Homo sapiens: one gene and its partners. The protein of the gene in region 4 interacts with the protein of the main gene of each other region in a pairwise test. Each region holds a gene or a part of one and is shown on either strand. Other genes may lie near its edges. The genes, in order: KCNJ9, PTPN5, DNAJC1 and TMEM201.

What was found.
Region 1: the proteins of TMEM201 (region 4) and KCNJ9 interact in binary tests that used the Homo sapiens proteins (3 or more experiments, as listed by UniProt).
Region 2: the proteins of TMEM201 (region 4) and PTPN5 interact in binary tests that used the Homo sapiens proteins (3 or more experiments, as listed by UniProt).
Region 3: the proteins of TMEM201 (region 4) and DNAJC1 interact in binary tests that used the Homo sapiens proteins (3 or more experiments, as listed by UniProt).

What each region holds. Positions count from the first base shown.
Region 1 is NC_000001.11:160,077,615-160,084,565, reverse strand, and holds the start of KCNJ9 (G protein-activated inward rectifier potassium channel 3), read right to left. Parts: upstream 3,029-6,951; 5' UTR 2,869-3,028; exon of another isoform or gene 707-2,868; coding exon of another isoform or gene 536-706; coding exon 1-535. UniProt on the Homo sapiens protein: Inward rectifier potassium channels are characterized by a greater tendency to allow potassium to flow into the cell rather than out of it.
Region 2 is NC_000011.10:18,727,427-18,732,827, forward strand, and holds the end of PTPN5 (tyrosine-protein phosphatase non-receptor type 5), read right to left. Parts: intron 5,277-5,401; coding exon 5,166-5,276; intron 2,393-5,165; coding exon 2,232-2,392; intron 2,141-2,231; coding exon 2,027-2,140; intron 1,602-2,026; coding exon 1,508-1,601; coding exon of another isoform or gene 885-1,507; 3' UTR 502-884; downstream 1-501. UniProt on the Homo sapiens protein: May regulate the activity of several effector molecules involved in synaptic plasticity and neuronal cell survival, including MAPKs, Src family kinases and NMDA receptors.
Region 3 is NC_000010.11:21,881,705-21,888,734, forward strand, and holds part of DNAJC1 (dnaJ homolog subfamily C member 1 precursor), read right to left. Parts: intron 736-7,030; coding exon 578-735; intron 1-577. UniProt on the Homo sapiens protein: May modulate protein synthesis.
Region 4 is NC_000001.11:9,598,911-9,605,940, reverse strand, and holds part of TMEM201 (transmembrane protein 201), read right to left. Parts: intron 4,837-7,030; coding exon 4,487-4,836; intron 3,873-4,486; coding exon 3,669-3,872; coding exon of another isoform or gene 3,650-3,668; exon of another isoform or gene 992-3,649; intron 1-991. UniProt on the Homo sapiens protein: Critical regulator of angiogenesis and endothelial cell (EC) migration. Promotes the migration of endothelial cells, which is essential for angiogenesis.

The DNA of each region.
Region 1 (6,951 bases), about 150 Mb from region 4:
CCACGGCGTGCGAGGAGAAGACGAGCGTGGCTGCGCGCTTGTTGGGCTGCGAGATCTTGACGAACATGCAGCCCACCATGAAGGCGTTCACCATGGAGCCCAGGATGGCCTGCAGCAGCAGCAGCACGATGCCCTCGGGGCACTGGTCGGTGATGACGCGGTGCCCGTAGCCGATGGTGGTCTCGGTCTCGATGGAGAAGAGGAAGGCGGCCACGAAGCCGTTGAGGTTGTTGACGCACGGCGTCCACGCGGTGTCCTCCAGGTGCTCCAGGTCGCCGCGGCCGTAGGCGATCAGCCACCAGATGGCGCCGAAGAAGAGCCAGGTGAGCGCGTAGGCCAGGACGAAGAACAACAGGCTGAGGCGCCACTGCAGGTCCACCAGCGTGGTGAACAGGTCCGTCAGGTAGCGGTATGTCTCGCGCACGTTGCCCTGCTGCACGTTGCACCGGCCATCCTTCTCCACGTAGCGCTGGCGGCCGCGGCGCCGCGGCGGCTCCTCCTGCCCGGGCGAGAAGGCCGCGTTCTCCTGCGCCATGGCGGCCGCGTCAGGGCGAGCGCTGCGGGCGCCTGGAGTGCGGCGGGGGCCCGAGCTGCTGCCACCTGCCGCGCGTCGCTGGGCGCCTAGGCGGCGTCGGGGGTCCTGGAGGGGCTTAATAAAGGTTTGCCGAATGAGTGGCCCCTCGGGAGATGGGGAGGCACGGGGCATCAGGGCCAGCACCGAGCCCTGGGGGGCCCTGGGCGAGTCCCTTCGTGTTGCCTGGCCTCTATTTCTGGGAATAACACATTCAGCCCTAACTGCCCCCCAGGCTCAGAAAGTTGTGAGGGTCAAATGGAATGATGTACCTGAACTGGATAGAACTGTGCAAGTTCCACGATGATTTTCAGGGGAAGGAGGTACCAGATATTTTGGTGCCATCACCTCCAGCTGGGGTGTGCAGCACCTCAGGGGCAGCCCCGGGGCCAAAGACCCAGGCCCAGATCCCCCTAGTGATTTCCTGAAATCAATAGACTGGGGGCTTTTTGGGGAGGGGGGCAGGCGGGTAATGGAGCCCTCCCTGCCCTAAGGACTTCCACCATCCCTTCCCCAGCTGTAGCCAGTGCAGCCACCAATGGCTCTCCTCGCAGGCTGTTTTGAAGTTCACCCCAAGACTGATACACAGTCTTTCTCATTCTTCCCTCCTTGGACCTCACTCACTCCGCTCCATTCCCTCCCCTCAACATGCTTACAAACGAGAAAGAAATGAAAGCTGTGGAAAGTCAGTGGAAACCCTCCAGTGCACAAGGGTGGAACATTAGGAAATTCCCACTAGAAATCCTCCCTGAGACCTACCCACGATCACTGCTGCTCTTGGGCCAGCCTCATTTCCCTTGGGTTTTTTCTCCTAGTGGAGACAGCCTGCAAATGGGGAGGGGAACTGGAAGATCCCAACACAGAAGCCTGGGAAAGGAAGCCCAGAGTTATAAAGAGTTAGGCTCGTATCCCTCTGGGATCCTATTCTTCATGAGAGACATGGAATCAGATCAGGTGAAGCACTAAGCACCCACATTTATTTCCCCACTCCCTCTAGTTATATTTTCCCCCAGCCTCTTACTTCCCATGGACTATCCTAACACCAGCCCCGCCCCCACCTGCCATATGCCCCAAAGCCCACATTCCAAGCGAAGCCCACCTGATTTTTCTTCACATGCTTGCCTCTGAGGAGCTCTCTGAGCTGCAATCTGCTCTGAGAGAGGTCCAGAGCCCTTCCCCAAAGCACCCAGGGTCCTCTAGGAGATATGGACCATACAGGGAAAGGTTTAGAATAGGATTTGGGACTCTTCCACCTTCCCTTCTCTTTCCTGGGAATGATCCTCTCCTCCCACTCCACGGAAACGTGGGCTGGCTAGTGGGTGGGGGATGGAGGAGTGTGCCATAGGAACCACAGATGGCCTGGATGGTTGACCAGGTCCTGGGGAGAAACTGCCTGGGTATGTGACTCTAAACCTAGCACTCCAGCATCTTATGTTCTGGGGTGAGGTCCTCTGCAGTCAGCACTCTGGAGAGGGTGTGTGTGTGTGTGTTTGTGTGTCTTGGGGTAGAGAAGGTAGGAAGAGAAATCAAAATGAAATGGCTTTGAGCTTAGGGGCACCCCCTGCATTTATTGTCCATGGAGTCAGGGGACACAGGGTCCAAGAGCCCCATGGCAATGGAAGATTAGGGTTTCCCCTGCCCCCAACAATGGGCTTCCTTTTCCTTCCCTGAAGCTCAGATGTCCTCAGGAAGAGTAAGCATTGACTGGCTCAGAGACCCCAGGTCATGCAGAAAACGACCCTGCTCCCATTATCCTAGCTTTAGTCCCAGGTGGGCTTCCAGATGTTCTCTCAGGGTCTTAGGTAATCTGACCCCCAGTCGGCTTGCCTAGACAGATCTCTCTGCCCAGGGATGGGGAAGGAACCCCGATGTCGGATCACCCCCAGAACTCTCTCACTCTCCATTGCCCCAGGGATCTAGGTAAACCTTATTTTGAATGTGTCCCACATCCTGTCTTCCTGAGTGGGGGACTGCACTTTTCTCAGGGGAAGGAAAAGTGTGAAATTGTTACCTCTATCTCAAGATCAAGGACTTGATTTCTCCATCTTCCCTCCAAGAATTTCAGTTCCTCCAACCTACTCCTCATTTCTTGTGCATGCTATGACCCCTTTGCAGAAGATTGCAATACCACTTTTCCTGGGCCCCTCTTCCTCCCTCTAGAGAGCTGGGGAGTAAGGGGGCTCATTTTTTGGAAGGAGAGACCTGGTGAAAACTCCCCCAAGAACCAGCTCCTCCCAAACCCCCACTTGCCTTGGAAATAGGGGCCCAAACCCCAAGTCCCCCGCAACTCAACTCACAGCACGTGGAGAGGAGAGTAGCCGGCAGCAGAGACCCCTGGGGGGTGGCGTCCATGCCCCTGACACCGCCCCCCCCACGGGCCCCCCGAAGGGTGGGAGCCGCAGACACCGCTGTTTCTCCTAAATGTAGCGGCAGCTCTGACTAGGACTTGCTATCTGTGTCATCCCTACTTCCCAGGCTCCCCTGCTCCTCTCTTGTTTCCACGGCAACCAGTCTGGCGACAGCTCCAGAGCATCCCCCTCCCCTCCCCAGTCCTGGGTACCACTAGGGGTTGATCCAAACCACACGCCATAGCTATTTTTAGCCAAAGTCCCTCCTCCTGGACAACTCAGAGCTTGGCTCCTCACCCCCTCATAGGAAAAAAAAAAAAAGAAGAAGAAAGAAAAACAAAGCTGGCACGCTGGCTCTTTCCTAAGAAGCTCCTTCCTGGGGGAAAATACAAGCCCTCATGTATTTGAGAATAAGGTGCTAGGTTCCCTGGGGTTTCAGAGGGCCATCTGGTAGCTGGCAGCTCACCACCTTCAACATGGGTCTCTGCGTGCAGGTGCTGCTCTCAGGTCAGGCTGACCATCATGGTCTAGTTTTGGAGAGGCCATGGATCCAGAAGGCGGTAGCTAGAAGGAAAATAGATCTACTAAAGGAAGGGAGGCAGGGTCAGGGGTTCTAATTATTGCCACTGATTTGCACTGTGTCCCATAGGAGTCACTTCACTTCCCTGAGCCACAGTTATTCCATCTGTACCAGGGTGTGGACAAGAGCAAATATCCCCTTTCTGCCTGCTTCACAGAGTCAGCAGATCAAACGAAGAAAAAACAAACAAACAAAAACCAAAAAAACCACAAAGGGCTTTGAAATGTGTTTTATTCATAGCAAAAACCCTAGAAACAACCCAAATGTCCACCAGAGAGAAAAGCCTAGGTTAGGGCTTACTAAGTATTCACTCGGCAAACTTCTGCGGAGCCCAAGTGCCAGGCAGTGTGTTAGATGGGGTGGTTACAGAATGGGTGAGTCCCTGCCCACAAGGAGCTCATTAACCCAGGAGGGATAAAGACACACAAACACACAGTGGCTGCTGCTACTAATTCACTGAGCATGGGATATGAACGAGACACATGCCTCATGTCATCCCCATGGCAACTCTATAAGACAGGTGTTATTTTTCCCAGTTATAGATGAGGAAACTGAAACAGAGACATGTTAAGTAATTTATCGAATGTCACAGAGTTGGGCAGAGACAGGAGCCAAACTCCCACATCTGTATCACCTCATGCTTTGTAAATTGTTTTAAAAGAAGACTTCTTAAAGGGTAGTTTTAGATTCAGAGCAAAACTGAGAGGAAAGTTATAGAGATTTTCCGTATGCCCCCTGTCCCCACACATCCACCAGAATGGCACATTTGTTACAAGTGATGAAGCTACATTGACATCATAATCGCCCAAAGTCCATAGCTGACATTAGGGTTCACTTTTGGTGTTGTACACTCTGTGGGTTTGGACAAATATATAATGATGTGTATCCACCATTATAGTCTCATTGCTGTAAAAGTCCTCTATGCTCTGCCTAGTCAATCCCCCTTCCCTAACCCCTGGCAACAACTGCTCTTTTTCCTGTTTCCATAATTTTCCTTTTCCAGAATGTCATGTCGTTGGAATTGTACAATATGTAGCCATTTCAAATTGGCTTCTTTCACTTAGTAATGTAAATTTAAGGTTCCTCCATGTCTTTTCATGGCTTTGTAGTTCATTTCTTTTTGGCACTGAATAATATTCCATTTCAGGATGGCCATGGTTTATTTATCTATTTACCTACTGAAGGACATCTCGGTTGCTTTCAAGATTTGGCCATGATGAATACAGCTGCTATAAACATCCATCGGCAGATTTTCATGTGGACGTAAGTTTTCATCTCCTTTGGGTAGATACCAAGGAGCATGATTCCTGGATCGTATGGTAAGAGTATGTTTAGTTTTTTAGGAAACTGCCACACTTTCTTCCAAAGTAGCTGTACCATTTTGCATTCCCATCAGCCACGAATTCCTGTTCCTGTTGCTCCACATTCCTGCCAGCATTTGGTGTTGTCAGCCTTAGCCTAGTGTGCCTCAGTAATGTAATATCTGTGGAATATTAATATCATGGGTTACTGTAAAGCCATAATAATTGCTGTGTTTAAATATGTGAATGTGTATATAACACACTGTTACATAAAAAAGCAGAACCTAAAAATATTCTTAGAAATTGATCATGACTATATTGAAATAGCTTCAGGAACACTGATAAAAATCAGAACAAAATTTGGAGAAACAGAAATATCTTATTGTTTATTTTTCCCCAGGGAAATAATGAAGAGAAGAAAGTGGTTTACAAACGCAAAGTGTTGTTGCTGTTGTTATCAGTATTATTATATCCCAGATATGGATCTATTCTTATCCAGATCCTTTAAATTTGGATCAAGAAAATATGAGCTAGAGGAGCAGGAAGACATAGAGATGGACACGGAGGGCTAGAAGCTCCTGGAATGACCTGGCAAGGTGGGAAATTCGGTACTGGATAATATAAGCTCAGGAGGCAATGACTTGGGTTCAAATCCCACCTCTGTCCACTACTAGCTGGGTGAACCTGAGCAATTATTTAACCCGTTAAACCTCAGATTCTTCATCTAAAAAAAAGAAAACCATATTATTCATCTCTTAGAGGGTTGTCATGAAGACTACATAAGGCAATGCCTGACACATTGTTAGTACTCAGTAAATGCTAGCTACTGTCTTCCTCTTCCTCCTCCTCATTGTCTTCTTCATGGTCATCATCATTGTCACTGTCATCACCATCATCTCAGGGATGTCCTGAAAGCCCCACCCTGCCTGTGCCACCTTCCTCTGTTCTGGCACCACCCTGTGAGGCCTGCAGGGGGCGCCCCCGGTATACTGCCCTCTCCTCAGCTCTCTTGCTGGTGATTCTTGTTGTTCCAAGTGGAAATATCGAGTTTTCAGCCCGAGATTGGCATCAAGAGTGCTGTTAAAGCCCCAGTCAACATCCCCGTCTCCTGGGCCTGGTCCTGTCACCCGAGCTTTGGGACTGCTAGCCTGCCCTTCTCTGTCCTGCCAAGCAGCTGCTCACATTGGTTCCACTGTGCCAGGAGCTCAGAGAGAAGAAACCAAACTCCTGGGCAAGAACACATTTGCATAGAGCTGGCCCTATTTGCTGGAGGGGGCATCACTGGCAGGGCCCTCCACAAGGCAATTTCAGCCAGCCCCTCGCCTCAGTCCAGGTGCCCCTGAACCTAGCCTGGCTGACAAGGAAGAAGACTACCACTCCCTCACCTGATTCACTCATCCTGCAGGTCCTAGACTTTACCTGTTATCTAACCTCAGTTCCTTATTTATCACTGAGCTGAACTGAGGCAGGAGAAAAAAAGTTTTCCCAGGCACCAGGACACAAAAGCATAGACAAGATTCTAGCTTTTGGCTTGGCACGGTGGCTCGAACCTATAATCCCAGCACTTTGGGAGGCTGAGGTACACGGATCGCTTGAACCCAGGAGATGGAGACCAGCCTGGGCAACATGGCGAAACCCTGTCTCTACAAAAAATACAAAATTAGATGGGTGTAGTGGTATGTGCATGTGGTCCCAGCCACCTTGGAGGTTGAGGTGGGAGGATCACCTGAGCCTGGGAGCTCAAGGCTGCAGTGAGCCGTGATTGCGCCACTGCACTCCAGCCTGGACAACAGAGTGAGACCTTGTCTCAAAAAAAAAAAAAAAAAAAAAAAAAAAAAAGGAACCGTGGTGCAAAATAGGAAAAGAGCTTAAAAAGAGCCTACTGTGGCCTGTCACTTGGAGAACAGGGAACAGGTGATACTTTTGGGAGAAAATAAAAGGTTCCCTTCCTCCAGCAGACACAGCTCTGAGCTGGGTGCAGGAATTGGCAAGCTGAATGCAGTTCAGTCCTCAACTTGCCCCATCAGCAGGTGCCTTTGTGGCAGCCCTGAGATCAGCCAAACTGGGGAGGCTTCCCTGGACAAGATCATGAGACATCTTGTGCAAAATCTGGCAAGTGGAAGAGGAAGCATGATGGGGAAGACAGCAGAC
Region 2 (5,401 bases), on a different chromosome or scaffold from region 4:
GATCTCAGCCCACATGCAGATTCCCTGGGCCCCTTGGGAGGAGCTACTCTGAGCCCAGGCCTTACAAGGGAAATTACTGGGCTGCAGCTGCTGTTGGGATCTGTGGAGCTAACATGGGATAAGAGTTTGGCCAACAGGGAGGGGCCTGGGTGTGACCTGAATGTCTCCTTACCCTAGCCTTGGCTTCTCTGGCACATCTGTTGGAAATGGTGACCTGCCAGCCACTGTGCCTTCCCTGGAAGCCTTCCACACCTGTCCTTGAGGCTCCCCATGGCCCAGAGCATGTGTCAGGGCCAGGGCTGAGGCTGTGTGAGAATCCTGCAGAATGTTCCCAGTTTGGCTTTACAAATTTGGACTCGCTCCATACTCCCAGTCTCCACAAGGGGCTCCAGTGAGCAGAAGGGCCAAGCTCACTGTGCTCATGCTGGGGAGGGGCACAAAGACCCAAGTACAGGAAGGAAGGCAGTGGAGGGGAGAGGCAAATCACACAGACCCAGGAGGTTAGTTTTGCTCAAAATGCTCCGTTTATTGCTCTATTCAATGACCACGAGCGAATTATAAAAAGACACCAAATGTCTCTGTCTGCCGTGGGATAAATATTTAAAGTCAGCAATAAAAACACGTGGCTCCAAGATAATACATGTTGCCAAAGAGTCATGCATGCCCTCCTGATGGGCTCTCAACACACGCATGGACATGGGAACACACGCAGAGCAACACGCAGTGAGACTTCTGGGAAGGCTTTCCCACAGTGACACAGAAAAATGTCTCACGTAGATCTGGGCTGAGTCCCCACCCAAACCTTGAGCTCCCCTCCCCTCCCCAACAGGGCCTAGATCCTCTGGGTTCTCCATGCCCCATCTGCCCCCTACCTTGCCAGTGCCTCACAGGCTGGGCACCCTCCTGAGAGCATCTGACACCCAGAGGCCACCCTGGCTGTGATGCCCACTCCAACCTAGAGAACTCTCCCTCAGCTGAAAGCTCTCTGGTGACCTTCTGGAGCTCCCCATGCCTAACTCCCCGTCATCTGCCTTTTGGGAGAAGTGCGGGTGAGGCCGAGGCAGGCAAGTCCGGTTGCTTAGGGGCTGGAGCTCATTACCCCTTCCTGGCTGAGGAGACACAGTGTCCGGTACAGAGGGCAGAGATGGATGGACAGACAGAACACATTGCAGCAGGACACAAAGTGTAGCACGGAAACATTCTGGATCAGGTATTGATGGAACCATCGTTAAAAACTGGAGCCCGGGGTCTGCGTGGTGTGGGTCAGGCCCCGGGGCCCCAGGCCTGGCCTGGCATGTCCCTTCCCGACCCTGCCCCCCACTCCCCAATATGTACAGTAGGAAGAGCAATGCTGGAGGGTAGGGGTCAGGCCAGGCTGACAGAGGACAGAGGGAGCTGACTGAAGGGGAGGAAGCGGGGAGCAGGCCCAGGACCCGAGGCAGGGCCCTGGGTGAGGGCCGAGACTCAGGCTGGGCAGTGCCCAGAGAACCTTGTAGGAGAAGCGCAGTCATTCTGGGGACTGGTGGGACAGCTGCTTTTCGTAGAGGCTCATGACGTGGTGCACAAACTGGTACTGCTCGCATGTCTGGATCATGCCGCCCCTGCCCGGCAGAGATGCACAGTGGGGGCAGGGTCGTGGAGGGATGGGCTGTGGGAGGTGCCCCAAAAGCCATGGAGTAGCAATCACTTGCCAGGCCTTGCCCCTGTGCGTCTTGGAGAGACCAACCCTTGCCAACCATTACCCTCTGCCCCTTCCTATCAGGGACACAGATGACATGTCCTACCACTTTCGGCCTCTGTCCTTTTATCCACCAGCTCTGCTTTTCTTCCCTCTTCATCTGGCCCCCCACTGTCTGGATCCTGCCCCTCTACCCAGCTGTCCTCGCTACTCCTTGTCTGCCCATCAGTCCGTGCCAGTGTTTTCCATCTGCCCCTCACCCCCCGCCCATGCACATGTGGGTCTCTCCCTCTACCCGCTCGGGGCTCTAGCTCCCTTGTGTGTCCCCACTCCCGCCCGTGGGCTGACCTGTCCTGACGGAGCTGGCACGTGGTCTTCAGGATGTCCACCACACCCTCCTGCCGCAGCTGCTGGCAGCAGATGCTGGTGGCAATGAAGCAGCCGGTCCTCCCAATCCCTGCACTGAGGGCCGAGGGGACCGGTGGGGTGAGGGGCAGGGCAGCCCAGCGGGTGGGGGGCTGCCCCGCTCCAGTGGCTGGCTGGGAGGACCCACCTGCAGTGGACGATGATGGGGGCACAGTGGGGCCCCTCCTGCTGGGCTGCCTCCTCCACCTCCCGCACCAGGTGCAGGAGTGGGGGGGCCCGGTCTGGGGTCTTCTGGTCGGGCCAGGATGTGAACCAGTAATGCTTCAGGCCTCGCTCCTCAGTCCCACTCTGTCGAGGAGACAGAGGCCCACCCCAGGTATGTGTGAACTCTTTCAGCTCACAAACCAGCCCAGAGATAGAGATGAGATGGAAGGAGGAAGAACACAGGAAGAACACTGAGAGTGGGACCCCTTCACCCTTCCATCTAGGCCACATTGCCCAGTGGCACCAGACACAGACCCAAAGCCAGCTTGGTTTTGGGGGTTGGTCAGCAGCGTTGGCATGGATCTTGCCTTTGGTCCTGCCCCAACAACTTCAGGATCATCCAAGAGGGGCCAAGAGCCCCTTCTCCAATTTATTACTATCTCCAGGGTTCCTTATCTTAACAAATGGTCCCCCAGTCATCCCTTTGTCACATAACCCAGCCCCGGGACTCTTCTTCGCCTCTTGCTGTGCCTCGCCTGCGCCTGCGTGACTCGCCTCTATCTTAGTGCTGCAATTAGTGCTGCAAGTTTTACCACCTCTTCACACTCCCCGCTTCACTGCCACCTTGACCTTTATCATTGCTCGAGTGTGGGAGATTTCTGCCTCATCCCCAACTGTCTCAGATCCACAGAGTCAAAATAGTCTGTGTACAACACACATCTGGACATGCTGCTCTCCTGCTGAAAACCTGTGGCTTTGGACTGAATGTGTGTGTCCCCTTAAGTTCACATGTTGAAACCAAATCCCAACATGGTGGTATTTGAAGGGAGGGCCTTTGCGAGGTGATGAAGTCATGAGAACGGAGCCCTCACGAATGGGATCAGTGCTCTTACAAAAGGAGCTTTCACTCCTTCTGCCACGTGAGGACATGACCCTGGAAGTGGGTCCTCACCAGGGTCACGGTGCCTTGATCTTGGACTTCCCAGTCTCCAGAACTGTGAAAAATAAACCTGTTGCTTACAAGCTACCTGGTCTATGGTATTTTGTTATAGCAGCCTGAGCAGACCACAACATCCTTCAATGTCTCTCACTGCTCTCAGAATAAGACCCACTCTCCTCAGTCCTTCACCTGGCTAGGAAGACAACTGCTACAGGGCCTGCCCTTCCAGACACACCTCCTGCCCCTGCGTACTTGTACTCAATGCTCCCACACTCCAAAAGGTTTGTAGGTAAAATCTCAGCAGCACACACAAACACATGTGCACACATACATGCACACAAGTGTTCCATCTTCCATGTCCTTACTTTTATTATTTTCTCACTGGGAATGTTCTCCTGACTTGTTTGCCCCTGGTCAACTCTTACTTATCCTTCAAGACCCCATTCAGCACCACCATGTACAGGAAGCCCTCCCTGAGCACATCAGCTGGCAGAGTGTCCTTCTTTTATACATATATATATACACACACACCTATATATATATTTATATTTTATATATATTTTATATATTATATATTTATATTATATATATTTTATATATAGGTATAATAGGATATGTATATCATATATACATACATATATGATATACATATCCTATATTCATCCAATATAACATCATATGATATACATATCCTATATTCTATATACCTATCTCTAGCTCAGTACTTACCATCTTATACAATGCTTCTCAAGGAAAGAGTCCAAGCTTTGGGAAGCTCTGTGTTCACAGTATCCAACCCAGAACCAAGCTCAGGCCAGGTGCTCGTAATGTCTTATGGACAAAAGTAAATTCCCTCAAACTCCAAGATGCCCTGGTTCTTCCCTCATCATCTCCATGGCATTGAGAAGGTGAGCAGCCCTGCCTCATCTCAGCCTGTCTTTCTGGGGAATTTCTACTCAGGAAGCCATTTTCTCAAGTCCTGAGTTACCTGGCTGTGACAGTGACCACTACTTCTGCTTTTCACTTCCTGGCCCTTCATGCCCTCCAACAAGACCTGGATCTTAGAGCTGCTTGTGGGGGCACTGCTCTTGGGGGCTGAGATGCTCTCGACACCCTACCTGGCCCCTATTCAGTGGGAGAGGGAACAGCTCAGAGGGCCAAGTCTCCGGTCTTGTGCTCAGTAACCCCTGTGGCTGTCAGCATCAATGAACTTCCTTGGCTGCTCCTGGATAGGGCATCAGCTTCCTGATGCCTGGTTCACCTCTTCCAGCCTTTGGGGTTATTACAATTACAGCCTTCCCTAAACATGGGTCTTATTTCTCACAAACAGAATCCACTAATCCCGATTTCAAAGGAACAGTCTCCTCTATTATGCTGATCCTGGAGGAAGCACAACTTCAGGGTGGGAGGATACCTTCTCCCACTCTTCTGGGCTGTTTTGTATTGCTCATATTTTGTGTGTCTTCCTTTTTCTTGCTGTTTTCTGTAACCACAGCCCCCTGTACAACCCCAAAGCAGCAAAGAGTGCCTGCCCTCTTGTGGACAGATTGGGCACTACAGGCCAGAAGCCCAGGATCCCAGGTGAAGAGATGTTTCTAAGGAGGATCTCAAAGTCATGATGAACCCTCAATTATAAGCACAGTGCTGGAGGCTGCTGAAGTCCCCTCATCCAGACAGTCCTGGCCTTGGGTACATTTGAAGCATAGCTAGAATGCATTATGAATGACAGAGTAGAGAGACAGAGAGAGCCCAACAGCATGAAATGTAACTGAGGACTGGGAAATGCAAGGGGTTTGATTCTACCTCTGGCTCCCAAGTCCATTCACCTCTCACTCATCCGTAATTATCAGAAAATCTGGGAGTGACACTGGCTTTTATGTCAGTTACAGTGGACTTGGGGGACCTGTTCTCTGTGGAGCCCCCAGTTAAGCCCCTACACTCATCCTCAGCTTCACCCAGCCCTGCCCCAGGCCTCACCTTGAGGGAGATGAGTCGCAGCCGGTAATCCTCCGTGTGAATGACTTTCTGCACAGTGATCTCAACACCGTCGTACGCCACCTGCTCCTCCGGCCAATACTCGGTGCATTTCTGCAGGGGCCCAGATCAGGCTGCCATACAATCCTGTTCCCTTCCCACAACTCTCTACACTCTCTTCAGGGCCAGCGGAGAGATACACAAGGGCAACAGGGTTGCTGCTACAGAGTGTTGGGTTC
Region 3 (7,030 bases), on a different chromosome or scaffold from region 4:
GATGTTATAGTAATGAAAAGTTTGAAATACCACAAGAATTACCAAAATGTTATATAGAGACACAAAGGAAGGAGATGCTTTTGGAAAAATGGTGCCCGTAAACTTGCTCAATTCAGGGCTGCCACAAACCCTCAATTTGTAAAAAAAAAAAAAAAAAAAAAAAAAACCGGCCAGGCACGGTGGCTCACACCTGTAATCCCAGCACTTTGGGAGGCCGAGGGGGGCAGATCATGAGGTCAGAAGATCAAAACCATCCTGGCTAACACGGTGAAACCCTGTCTCTACTAAAAACACAAAAAATTAGCCAGGCGTGGTGGTGGGCACCTGTAGTCCCAGCTACTTGGGAAGCTAAGGCAGGCGAATGGCATGAACCCGGGAAGCAGAGCTTGCAGTGAGCTGAGATTGCGCCACTGCACTCCAGCCTGGGTGACAGAGCGAGACTCTGTCTCAAACAAAACAAAACAATAGTATTTGTGAAGTGCAATAAAACAAAGCACTATATCGTGAGCTAACCCTGTATTTTATGTGCTTTTCTGTACATGTTTTACTCAAAACAAGTTTTATAAAGCTTATTTACCTGTTTTTTCTGTGTTCGGTTCCTGTTTTCCAACCAATCATCCATTTGTTCCTCAATTTCTTCTATGGAAGTTCCATGATCATAAGACTGAATATATGTAGTTTCTAAAGGTGTGTATACAGGAAATTCAGGTTTTGGTTTTTTAACTTTCTTCTGTTCTAAAAAATGTTTAAAAGAACCAATTATTGAGATTTTTAAAGAATAAAATTAATTTCTAACATTTTATTCATAGACCATATCCTGAAAGAAAACATCAAAATATAATTGTTCTGTTATAAATAATTGGCTATAACTTTTATTGTACATAAACCATTGCATTGTTTCTAAATAAAACTCAGAGTTGCTACTATTGTGGAGATGATCATGAGATAGCCATCATATCAATTTGCATACACCTTTGTTTTCAAAGTACTTTTCATAAAATATTTCATTTTGGCACAATAAAAAGAGCTTCAATTTAATATTGTAACCCTAACTTTACCATGTAATAAGTAAATAATACTGGGCAAATAAATTAACACTTAGAACAGTATCAACTTTCTCATCTATAAAAAAAACCTGGCTCTCACTAAATGGTATACATTTATTTTTCAATATTTTACAAAGGTGAAATATGATCTGGCAACATCAAGAGTAGTTATGAATCGATGGCCATCCATTGGGCTCTTTATTAAATCCCATTTTAGGCCTAGGAGCAGTGGTTCACGGCTCTAATCCCAGCATTTTGGGAGGCCAAGGCAGGTGCATCACTGGAGGCCAGGAGTTCGAGACCAGCCTGGGCAAAATGGCAAAACCCTTCTTCTACTAAAAATGCAAAAATTAGCTGCGTGTGGTGGTACATGCATGTAATCCCAACTACTTGGGAAGCTGAGGCATGAGACTCACTTGAGCCCAGGAGGTGGAGGGTGGGGTTAGCCAAGATCACACCACTGCATTCCAGCCTGGGTGACAGAGTGAGATTCTATCTCAAACACACACACACACACACACACACACACACACACACACACACACCATTTTAACTGGAGACTTGACATTGAGAAGCAACTCCATTCTTAATTACTATAGTCAAACTCAGCCTCATAAGAGTATTTTCACCACCCCATGTGTACGTGTGTATGTGTGTATTTGCATGTACTATACTGCCAATGTAACAAAATCAGTATATACTGGCATAGGAATAGACAAATTCCTAGAAGAGAATAGAGAATCTGTAAATACCAATGCTTGTTGACTTATTATGGGATTACATCCTGATAAACCTATCATATATTGAAAACATCCTTAATTAGAAAATGCATTTAATAAAACTAACTTCATGGCTTAGCCTAGTCTACCTTAAGTGTACTCAGAACATTTACATTAGCTTATAGTTGGGCAAAATAACATAGTGACACAGTACACTGTAGAGGATCAGTTTTAATCCTCATGATCATATGGCTAAGTGGAAGCTGCAGTTTGCTGCTGTTACCCAGCATTATGAGGGAGTATCCTACCGCATATTGCTAGTCCAGGAAAAGATTCCAAATTCAAAGTACAGTATTGTTTTTGCACTATCATAAAGTCAAAAAATTGTAAGTCAAATCATTATAAGTCTAGGATTGTCTATATTTCAATTTAGTGGGAAAACAATTTATTAAGTAATGCTTACACAACTGAGTATCCATTTAAAAGAAAACTCTTACACTGTATACACAAATAAATTCCAGATAGAGAAGAGAGTTGACTTTAAAAGCCAAAACAATAAAAATTTTGCAAAAAGAAATCTTAAAATCTACTTGTACTATTTAAAGGAAGGGGACATCTAAATAAGAATGAAAACCCAGATGCTGTTACAAAAAAGATAAAAGAGTAAACAAATCAAGAGACAAATAATAGATTTGGAAAGGATGTATCCAATTCAGAGTATAAACAGAAGATTGCTATAAACAGATTTTATAAATGGACAACCACCCAATAGAAAAATATAGGCAAAAGGTCATAAATGGGCAATCCACAATTGAGTGCCCACGTGGCTAACAAATAAGAAAAGAGGCTCATACACTCTAAAGGTTAAAGAAATACAAATTAAGTAATACCAAGATATAATTTTATACCAATCATATGGGTACAAATTTAAAATCTAATTCAGATGTACTGTTGGCAGGGAAAAGGCTACTTCTAAATTGGTGGAGGAAATGTATTATTCTATTAGAGCCTTTCTGGAAAGCAGTCTAAACATATCCATTAAAATTAACATATACAGCCTTTTCCCCAGCAATTCTCCCAGAAACAAAAGTACTCAAATATAACTGTATGTGGGTATGTATGTATTTGTGTGTGTATGACTATTTACTATTTCTTCATAGAGAGATGAAACTATTAACACAGTAAACACTATTAGGAGAAATGACTGAATAATTATTGATGATGCTTTTACAATGAGAAGTATGAAATCACCATTGAAGTAGAGCAATAGCAGAAGTAATTTGGGCTACATATAGAGAATCAGTTATTTTTTTAAAAAGCAAATAAATTCAATTGTTTGTATTTATTTCTGGGGTGTTTCATCACAACTGCAAGTGATGTCTTTTTAAATAAGCATTTATAAAGGGGCACTAAATACAGAAATGAAATACTGCTATAAGCTAATACAAAAATACACAGACCAGTGTCACTATAAATCAACCACACAAACAAGCCAACATTATAACCAGCTAACAATACAATGACAGGATCAAATCCACACATATCAATACTAACCCTGAATGTCAATGTGCTAAATGCCCCACTTAAAAGTCACAGAGTGGCAAGCTGGATAAAAAAACAAGACTCAATGGCATGCTGTCTTCAAGAGACCCATCTCACAAGTAACGATGCCCTTAGCCTCAAAATAAAGAAATGAAGGGAAAACTACCAAGCAAATGGAAAACAGAAAAAAGCAGGGGTTGCAATCCTAATTTAAAGATTAAAAAACACAAAAAAAGGGCAATACATAATGGCAAAGGGTTCAATTCAACAAGACTTAACTATCCTAAATATATATGCACCCAACACAGGAGGACCCAGATTCATAAAGCGAGTTCTTAGAGACCTAAAAAGAGACACAGACTCACCCACATTAATAGTTGAAGACTTCAACACTCCATTGACAGTATTAGACAGATCACTGAGGCAGAAAATTAACAAAGATATTCAGGACCCAAACTAAACAGTGAACCAAATGGATCTGATAGATCTCTACAGAACTTTCTACCCCCAAACAACAGAATATACATTCTTCTCCTTGCCACATGGCACATACTCTAAAATTGATCACATAATTGAACATTAAACTATCCTCAGCAAATGCAAAAGAACCAAAACCGTATTAAACACACTCTCAAACCACAGTGCAATAAAAACAGAAGACTAAGAAACTTGCTCAAAAGAATGCAATTACACGGAAATTAAATGACATACTCCTGAATGACTTTTAGATAAATCATGAAATAAAGGCAGAAATCAAGAAGTTCTTTGAAACTAATGAAAACAAAGATACAACATACCAGAATATCTGGGACACAGCTAAGGCAGTGTTAAGAGGGAAATTCATAGCGCTAAATGCCCACATCAAAAAGTCAGAAAGATCTCAAATTAACAACCTAACATCACAACGGAAAGAATTAGAGAAGCAAGAACAAATCAACTGCAAAGATAGCAGGAGACAAAACATAACCAAAATCAGAGCTGAAATGAAGGAGACAGAGACAAGAAAATCCATTCAAAAGATAAACAAATCCAAGAATGGATTTTAAAAAAAAATTTAACAAGATAGGTAAGCTACTAGCTAGGCTAATAGAGAGAAAACCCCAAAAACCACAATTAGAAATGATGAAGGGTGTCATCATTACCACTGACCCCACAGAAGTAAAAATAACCAACAGAAACTACTACAGAAACCTCTATGCACACAAACTAGAAAACCTAGAAGAGATGGATAAATTCCTGGACACATACACCCTCCTAAGACTGAACCAGAAAGAAATTGATTCCTTGAATAGACCAATAATGAGCTCCAAAATTGAATCAGTAATAAATTAGGCTCCCAACTAAAAAAAGGCCAGGACCTGATGGATTCACAGCTGAATTCTACCAGATGTACAAACAGCTGGTATCATTCCTACAGAAACAATTCCAAAAAACTGAGGAGGAAGGACTCCTCCCAAACTCATTCTATGAGGCCAGCATCATCCTGATACTAAAACCTGGCAGAGCCACAACAACAAAAAAACTTCAGTTCAACATCCTTGATTAACAGTGATGCAAAAATTACAAAATATTTGCAAACTGAATCCAGCAGCACATCAAAAAGCTAATCCACCTCAATCAAGTATTCTTCAACCCCAGGTAGCAAGGTTGGTACAACATAAGCAAATTAATAAATGTGATTCTTCACATAAACAGAACTAAAGACAAAAACTGCATGATTACCTGAATAGATACAGAAAAAGCTTTCAATAAAATTCAACACCCCTTTATGTTAAAAAAAACTCTCAATAAACTAGGTATTCCCTTTGAAAATTGGCACAAGACAAGGATGCCCTTTCTCACCACTTCTATTCAACACAGTATTGGAAGTCCTAGCTGAAGCAATTAGGCAAGAGAAAGAAATAAAGCACATTCAAATAAAAAGAGAGGAAGCCAAACTGTCCCTGTTTGCAATTGACATGATTCTATATCTAGAAAACCCCATAGTTTCGGCCCAAAGCTCCTTTAGCTGGTAAACATCTTCAGCAAAGTTTCAGGATACAAATCAATGTACAAAAATCACTAGCATTCCTATACTCCAACAACAGCCAAACCTAGAGTCAAATCAGAAAGGCAATCCTATTCACAACTGCCGCAAAAAGAATAAAATACCTAGGAATACAGCCAACCAGGGAGGTGAAAGAGTTCTATGACGAGAATTACAAAACTCAAATAAAGAAATCAGAGAAGACACAAACAAGTGGAAAAACATCCCATGCTCATGGATAGGAAGAATCAGTATCATTTAAATGGTCATATTGCTCAAAGTAATTTACAGATTCAATGCTATTCCTATCAAATTAACAACGACATTCTTCACAGAACTAGACAAAACTATTTTAAAATTCATATGAAATGAAAAAGAGCCTGAATAGCCAAGACAATCCTAAGCAAAAAAAACAAAACTGGAGGCATCACACTACCTTACTTCAAACAATACTACAGGGCTACATAACCAAAACAGCATGGTACTGGTACAAAAACAGGCACATAGACCAATGGAACAGAACAGAGAGCCCAGAAATAAGGCTGCACACCTATAACCATCTGACTTTTGACAAAGCTGATAAAAACAAGCAATAAGGAAAGGACTCCCTATTCAATAAGTGGTGCTGGAATAACTGGCTAGCCATATGCAGAAGATTGAAACTGGACCCCTTCTTTACACCATACACAAAAATCAACTAAAGATGGAGTAAATATTTAAACATAAAACCCAAAACTATAAAAAACCTGGAGGACAACACAGGCAATAGCAACCTGGATGTAGGAATGGGCCAAGATTTCATTACAAAGACACCAAAAGCAATTGAAACAAAAGCAAAAATTGACAACTGAGATTTAAACTTAAGAGCTTCTGCACAGCATAAAGAAACTATCGACAGAGTAAAAAGACAACCTACAGAATGGGAGAAAATTTTTGAAAACTCTGCATGTGACAAAGGTCTAATATCCAGGATCCATAAGGAACTTCAATAAATATACAAGAGAAAAACAAACAACCCCATTAAAAAGTGGGCAAATGACATAAACAGACACTTTTCAAAAGAAGACATCCATGCAGCCAATAAGCACATGAAAAAAAGCTCCATATCACTGATTATTAGAGTAATGCAAATCAAAACCACAATGAGATACCATCTCTATCCAGTCAGAATGACTATTACTAAAAGGTCAAAAAATAACAGATGATGCCAAGGTTATGGAGAAAAGGGAACACCTATACACTGTTGGTGGGAGTGAAAATTAGTTCAACCATTATGGAAGACAGTATGGTGATTCCTCAAAGAGCTAAAAGCAGAACTACTATTTAACCTAGCAATACCATTACTGAGTATATACTCAGAGGAGTGTAAATCATTCTACCGTAAAGACACATGCACACAGATGTTCAATGCAGCACTATTCACAATAGCAAAGACATGGAATCAACCTGAATGCCCATCAATTAGCAATTTGATAAAGAAAATATGGTACATATACATCATGGGATACTATGCAGCCATAAAATGTGGTACATATACACCATGGAATACTATGCAGCCATAAAAAGAATGAGATCATGTCTTTTGCAGGAACATGGATGGAGCTGGAGGCTGTTATCCTTAGCAAACTAAACCAAGAATAGAAAACCAAATACCATATGTTTTCACTTACAAGTGAGAGCTAAATTATGAGAACTTA
Region 4 (7,030 bases):
CAGGTCCCCCAGTGACCTGAGAGTACCGTTGGGGGATGTGTGAAAGGAGGGTCCTAGTGGGCTGTGGGTATGAGGTGGTCAGCTGGGCCACGCAGCTCCTGGCCCCAAAGGGTGGGCTCTAGCAGGAGTGGCTGGGTCTTGCCAGTGCATCCCCACTCCTCCCAGCTCCTGCTCACACCACCCGGGGCTGCCTCAGTGCTTAAAGGCTGAATCTCCTGGCCACCTGGCACAGGGGCTGTTGTTCCCAGTTTGGTGCCACTGAAGATGGTGCTGTGGGGAGTTCCTTCGCAGTTTGACTCCCTCACTGTGATATGTGGGAACATCACTCAACCAGCAAGACCTCGTAAATCGCTCACAGGGCTGGGCATGAGGGGCTGGGCTCTGTACAGGCGCCCCAGCGAGCCTCCGCCAGCTAAAGGAGCCCAATCTGTTGGACCCTGGAGAACTCCAAAGGTGCTAACATTTCCTTTGGCGAGAGACCCCCCCCGACTGCCCTGTGCCCTCAAACCACGTCTCAGAGAGGGACTAAGAGACCAGGATCAGGCCTGGATGCTGGCTCTGGGGAGTGTCAGAGAGGGACTAAGAGGCCAGGATCAGGCCTGGATGCTGGCTCTGGGGAGTGTCAGAGAGGGACTAAGTGACCAGGATCAGGCCTGGATGCTGGCTCTGGGGAGTGCCGGAGCGGATACGCTCATCTGACACCAAGGGGAGATGTCTGGTCTTCTCCGACCCAATCCCAGCCCACATCAGGAGTGGAAGGAGAGAGACCACGTTTTAAGCAACAGTTTATTGAGACGGAAAAAATATGATCCAGCAAAGGCGAGGAGGCGAGCCGGGCCCCGAGCCAGCTGGTGTCATTGTCACTGGCTCCCAAACCTGACTCCTGTGGACGTGTCTGTACCCCAAACACAGCTGCCCACCCCAGCCCTGGCACAGAGCCCTTCTGAAAGAAAGAAAAAAGAAGAAAGACGCGGCACCTGACGCCAGCGGGTAAAAGCAGGGCCCCAGAGGCATTTATTGAAAACACAGCATCCAAAACACGACATCTAGGCCAGGCGCGATGGTTACAGTGATGAGAGGGTCACTAGACAATTATCCACAATTCTACGACATGAGACAGAGACTCAGCAACAGTCACAGACAGAAGGGTCATGTGTTCCTTCCTGGGCAGGGCTGAATGTGGCAGGTGCGGCGTGGAGGCTGCGTCCTGGCGGTTTGCTCCCAGGCAAGGGGTACGGGGGGCCGGCTTGGCCTGGGTGGGGACCTCAAGTCTGAGGGTGAGGATGGCTGAATCTACCTCGCTTATGTCTCAGGGACGGTCACCCATACCTAGGATGACCCCAGCCAGACCCTAGAAGGTCTGATGGCCATCCCAAGTCCCCCGCGAGGAGAAGAGTTCCCTGGCAGGGGTGACACATTCCCGGTCAACAAGCCACAACACAGTGGTGCCTGCACTCTCTCAGCTGTTGCCACAACACTTGGTGCTGGAATTTTCTCCACGTAGTGAAACTTTTAAGGGACACATGAATAATTTAAAAAGTCACACAAAACTCTACGAAAGGCAGGAATCCTCACTCTGCTGAGAGCTACCTCCTGAGATGTCGCTTCCGGACCCCGGCAGAGGGCAGGAGCGACATCAGCTCGGCAGGAGGATCCTGGCCAGCGCGAGGGCTGGCTCTGGTTATTATAAATAATCTAATTTAAATACGCACATACACACAGATGTCCTGCTTCTACCCAACGCCAAGAAAAGCAGACATTAGCATCACACTGTCAACACTTCCTCGAGAACCGAAGATTCGAGACGCAAGCAACAGCATGGCCAGCCGACAGGACGCTTTCCCGTCCTGGCTCCACCACGTCCTTCTCTCAGATGGGCTCTTTGTGGGCTGGGGGGTGGCGTGAGTGCACAGGCAGGCGGTTCCCTGCCCCTCAGGTAGACACCATGGGGGGCCGCTTTGGCTCACCCGCCCCAACTCCTCACTGCAGAACCAGTGGGAAGCGTGGCCCCGACCACATCTTTTCAGAGGGGTTTTCTCACCTCACGCTCCACACAGAACAACAAGCTGAGCCCAGTAACGCTGGGGCCTTGTCTGAAGCCACGCAGGTCATCGGGCACAGAGGCCACAGAAGCCCCCGAGGGTCTCCCGATGCACCTGGGTTCCTCACTTGTGAAGCTGGGTGGGATGTGAGCTGCTACCCAATCACTGGGGTGGGGCAGCCTCTAGGACCCCCAGGCGTGGCAGATTCACAGCAGTGAGGCCTGGCACCTGCCCCCCCAACCCATCCCGGCAGACCCAGGTGACGGGTGTAACCCTCATGCACCTGTGATCTGCTCTTGCCTCCCCCGGGGTTCCAACGCACAGGAGAGAGGAGCTGGCACACCCTGGCCACATCTGGAAGGTGAACTCGTGCTCAGAGTGGCGAGTGGCAGGACATGTGGGCCCTGAGGGAGTGGGCAGCCAGAGGGAACATGCCCGGTGAGGGACGGCCTCGGGCCACTCTCGACTGGGACCCCTGGATAAAGCCCCCAGGCCGGGAACTTCCTCTGCACGTGGCAGCCCCTCGACTTCCAGAGTGTGTCCTCATGAGCCACCTCATGTGATCCCCACACCCACTGAGCTGGCACCCAAGGGCTATGGAGAGGGGTCCACCTCATTTCATAGATGGCAAACTGAGGCTGAGAACAGCAGGGGCCTGGCCAGGCCCTGCTACTGAGGAGCAGGTCTGTGGGCTGCCCCCTCACCTGAGTCGGAGGACAGAGTGGCGCTGGGCCATGGTGAGCAGGCACCTGCAGAGGCTCGTGACAGGTCAGGGAGGGAAAGGATGACAACGACCTGATGTCACTGAAGGCCTGCATACCCTGGGCCCCTTACCCTTGGAAAAGCTCAGATTCCCCAAGGTCAGCACAGGCTCCTACTGCCTGTCTCAGGTGGGGTCTCGCTCCCCAAACTCATGGCGAAGGCCAGGCTGGGCCCAAGAACTGCACTCTCCATTTCCGGGGACTCGGGAGGGTCTTGGAGCAGGAGGCCAAGCAGCAGCCAGAGCTGCAGCTCGGCCTCCTTCACGGCTCCACCACCTCCTGCAGGGCCGGTCCAGCCATAAGCAGGACCAAGGGGACAGACCACAGGTGCTCCTCAGGGGTGAGGCTGGGGCTCTCTGCTGCCCCAGCCTCACTCTGCTGCACGGTCAGGGCACGCCAGGGGCCCAGCCTGTAGCCACTGTCACCACCCCTGTGCAGAGGCCAGAAGGGAAGACAGCAGGACCAGGACCCTCACCCAACAGTGTCAGAGCCAGCAAACGGCGTGGTGAGAGGGGGGTGCCTGGAGCTGCCAGTAGGAAGCCATGGGCCAGAGCCTGTGTGGGCGCTGCCCACATTCCAGTCACCAGGCCAGTGAAAGGGCCATTGGCCAGAGAGGTGGCAGCAGTGGTGAGTGGCTACAGGGCACTCGGGGATGGCTGGTGGTGCCCGAAAGGAAAAGGCAGGGCAGACTGACTCTTCGAGGCAGTGGAGGGACTGGGCCAGGACCTGGGGCTGTAGGGTGGGGGTGGGAGGGCGTGAGCAGGTGAAAAGAGGCAGGACAGAGAGGGGCCCGCTTCGGACCTGGCAAAGCCTGGGCCTGAGCATCCGTGTGTCCTCCCCCCGCAGTCATGGCTGCTTCTCTGACCTTCGGGGCCGGAACCTCCGTGGGCCCGTTGCCTTCCTTGTGGCCACAGCCGCCGTGAAGCCAACCAGGCAGCACAAAGATGTGGTGCTGAACTTGAGCGTGTCTAGCCAGCTAGGCGAGGCGGCCTGCAGGTGCTGCTCAGCCAGGTGCAGCCCCAGCAGCAGGGCCCACAGGCAGGTGCAGAAGGCATCGATCCTCCGGAGCCTGAAAGGGAAGCAGCGGGGTCACCCCAGGGGAGGACAAGACCTCCTGGGTCCACGCCTTCCTTCCTGCCTCCTCTGTCTATACCTGGCCCTGCTCAGAAGAGTCCAGAGCCAGGGGACAGTGTGGGCTCGGAATCCCCTCACACTCACACGCTACCTGGCTCTGAGCAGGTGGGTCAGTGTTTCTCCTCAGCCTGTAAGTTCTAGCCTAAAACAGGGCTAAGGAAAATTCCTCCGAGTCGGTGAGCAGGGGCGACGGGGACACAGCACTCACAGGACATGCTCCCACTCAGGGAACCCCAGAGGCCCCCACGTGAGCCCCCACAACCCAGGAGGCAGGTGGTTATCGTCATCCTGATTTGACAGAGCCCGAGGAGGAGAGAGGAGGCAACCCGGCCCAGCCCACAGCGGGTGTGCACGGGGCTGGCTCAGAGGGCGTCTGCAGCCTCACCTCACCTACGACTCCCAGCCCCTGGGACCAAGCCTTGTACCAGTGACATGGTGGAGTTCAGCCTAGGGCTGTGCACCCAATGGGGTCTCTTGGCCCCCGCCCTAGACAGTAATCCAGCACACAGTCCCCTGCCCGCCAACTCCTGGCCCTGGCCCCATGCACACCTGATGCGGCCAGCCAGCAGCATTGCCAGCAGGCAGGTGAGTAGGCCCAGTGCCACGACGCCCGTCTGGTGGCTCTGCCCAAAGGCCCAGGCCTCACACAGCTTCTCCGCCATGTGCTCGGGGAGTAGGCCCAGCAACTGCCGCCAGCCCTCGGCCCCAGGGGTGGTGCCATTGTCAGGTGTGGCTGAGCCATTGCCACCAGGTGGCAGGGCCAGGGGCACAGTGGTGCCTGGGGCGAAGTGTCCGCTGGCCCCATACAGCGCGGTGGTCAGTAGGAAGGCGCAGGCCAGGAAGGCGAGGGCACGGAGCAGGATGACCTGGACCGGGGACTTCACGGCGGAGGAGAAGTTCTGCAAAGGAGGAAGAGAGGCGGGTTAGTGAGACGGCCACAGAGCCACCCCCAGCCATCACCGGTGCCAGTCTGTGCGGGGTTCTGGCCAGACCCATGTTCTCACACATCCTGGGCTTGGTTCAAAAACTCACCACTCAGTTCCACCGGCCCGCCTCACTTCTGGGCGGGGAGGAGTGCTGCTCTACCACCCTCTCCTTTTAAAGAAGACTTTCCATATTGTAGTGACCTTATTTTGGCTCACTGCAACCTCTTCCTCCTGGGTTTAAGCGATTCTCCTGCCCCAGTCTCCGCAGCAGCTGGGATTACAGGCGCCCACCACCACACTCAGCTAATTTTGTATTTTTTTTGTAGAGATGGGGTTTTACCATGTTGGCCAGGCTGGTCTTGAACTCCTGACCACAGGTGATCCACCAGCCTCGGCCTCCCAAAGTGCTGGGATTACAGGTGTGAGCCACCGCGCCCAGCCAAGTTGAGCCCCTTCCTTTACTCTGGGGAAGCAACATGCCCATGGGGCCACCTCCCTACCCTGCTCCCCAGGCCCCTTCATGTCATCCAGGGTGGGTGTCCCGGGAGAGTGACTGGTATCACCACGCGTTTATTATGTGCGTATCTGAGCATGGGTTTTAGGGGTGGCCCTCCTGTTTCTCAGCACTTTCCTGGCACTTGCATTCGTCCTCCTAGCAGCCTTGGTGGTGCACTCCTAAGCCCTGGACCCATTTACAGCTGTGGAAACCACACTCAGGGAAGCTGAGAAACTTGCACAGGGCCACGTAGAAAGCCCACATCTGGTATGCAGTGGCTCCAGGGTTTGAGCCCAAGACCATCTGGCTAAAACTAATTTTTATCATAGTACTCAGTTGATAGAATATTCTGGTTGTTTAAAAAATCTGGTATGGTAGCAAGGAGGTTAAGTAGTAAAATCTACCCCTACAAGGAAACTCCTATCCACCCCTTTGTGTCTCTAGATGTGACCTGGGTCTGATTGATATGTGGTTTCCAGTCTGCAGCTGGGACACAGCCGTGCTACCTCTGCCCTGCCACACGTCTGCACAGCAAGGCACCAGGTGGACCCTCTCCTGGGGCCTTTGGTTCTCATTCTGTCTGCCTTGTTCCTGGTCTGAATAACTTACTACTGTACTTTTAAGGTTAACTTTTGCCACAGTTATCTGTCCATTTATGTCAGCTCCAATTAAAATCACAATAGGGGCCGGGCGCAGTGGCTCACGCCTGTAATGTCAGCACTTTGGGAGGCTGAGGCGGGCGGATCACGAGCTCAGGAGATTGAGACCACGGTGAAAACCCGTCTCTACTAAAAATACAAAAAATTAGCCAGGTGCCTGTAGTCCCAGCTACTTGGGAGGCTGAGGCAGGAGAATTGCGTGAACCCGGGAGGCGGAGCTTGCAGTGAGCCGAGATCACGCCACTGCACTCCAGTCTGGGCGACAGAGCGAGACTCCGTCTCAAAAAACAAAACAAAACAAACAAAAAAACCTCACAATAGGAATTTTTGGTGAGAACTTCACAAAATGATGGAAACAGTTATTTGGAGGCCGGGTGCGGTGGCTCAGGCCTGTAATCCCAGCACTTTGGGAGGCCAAGGCGGGTGGATCATTTGATGTCAGGAGTTCAAGAGTTCAAGACCAGCCTGAGCAACAGGGTGAAACCTCGTCTCTACTAAAATATAAATATTAGTCGGCTGTGGTGATGCGTGCCTGTAATCCCAGCTACTCAGGAGGCTGAGGCAGGAAAATTGCTTGAACCCGGGAGGAAGAGATTGCAGTGAGCCGAGATCGCGCCACTTCACTCCAGCCTGGGCGACAGTGTGAAACTGTCTCAAAAAATAAAATTTAAAAATAAATAAAAGGCTAGGCATGGTGGCTCACGCCTGTAATCCCAGCACTTTGGGAGGCCAAAGTGGGAGGATCACCTGAGGTCAGGAGTTCAAGACAAGTCTGGCCAACATGGTGAAACCCCACCTCTACAAAAATATAAAAATTAACTGGGCATGATGGCGGGTGCCTGTAATCCCAGCTACTCGGGAGGCTGAGACGGGAGAATCGCTTGAACCTGGGAGGCAAGGTTATAGTGAGCCGAGATCGTGCCACTGCACTCCAGCCTGGGTGACAGAGCAAGACTCTGTTTAAAAAAAAAAAAGGACGGGTGCAGTGGCTCACATCTGTAATCCCAGAACT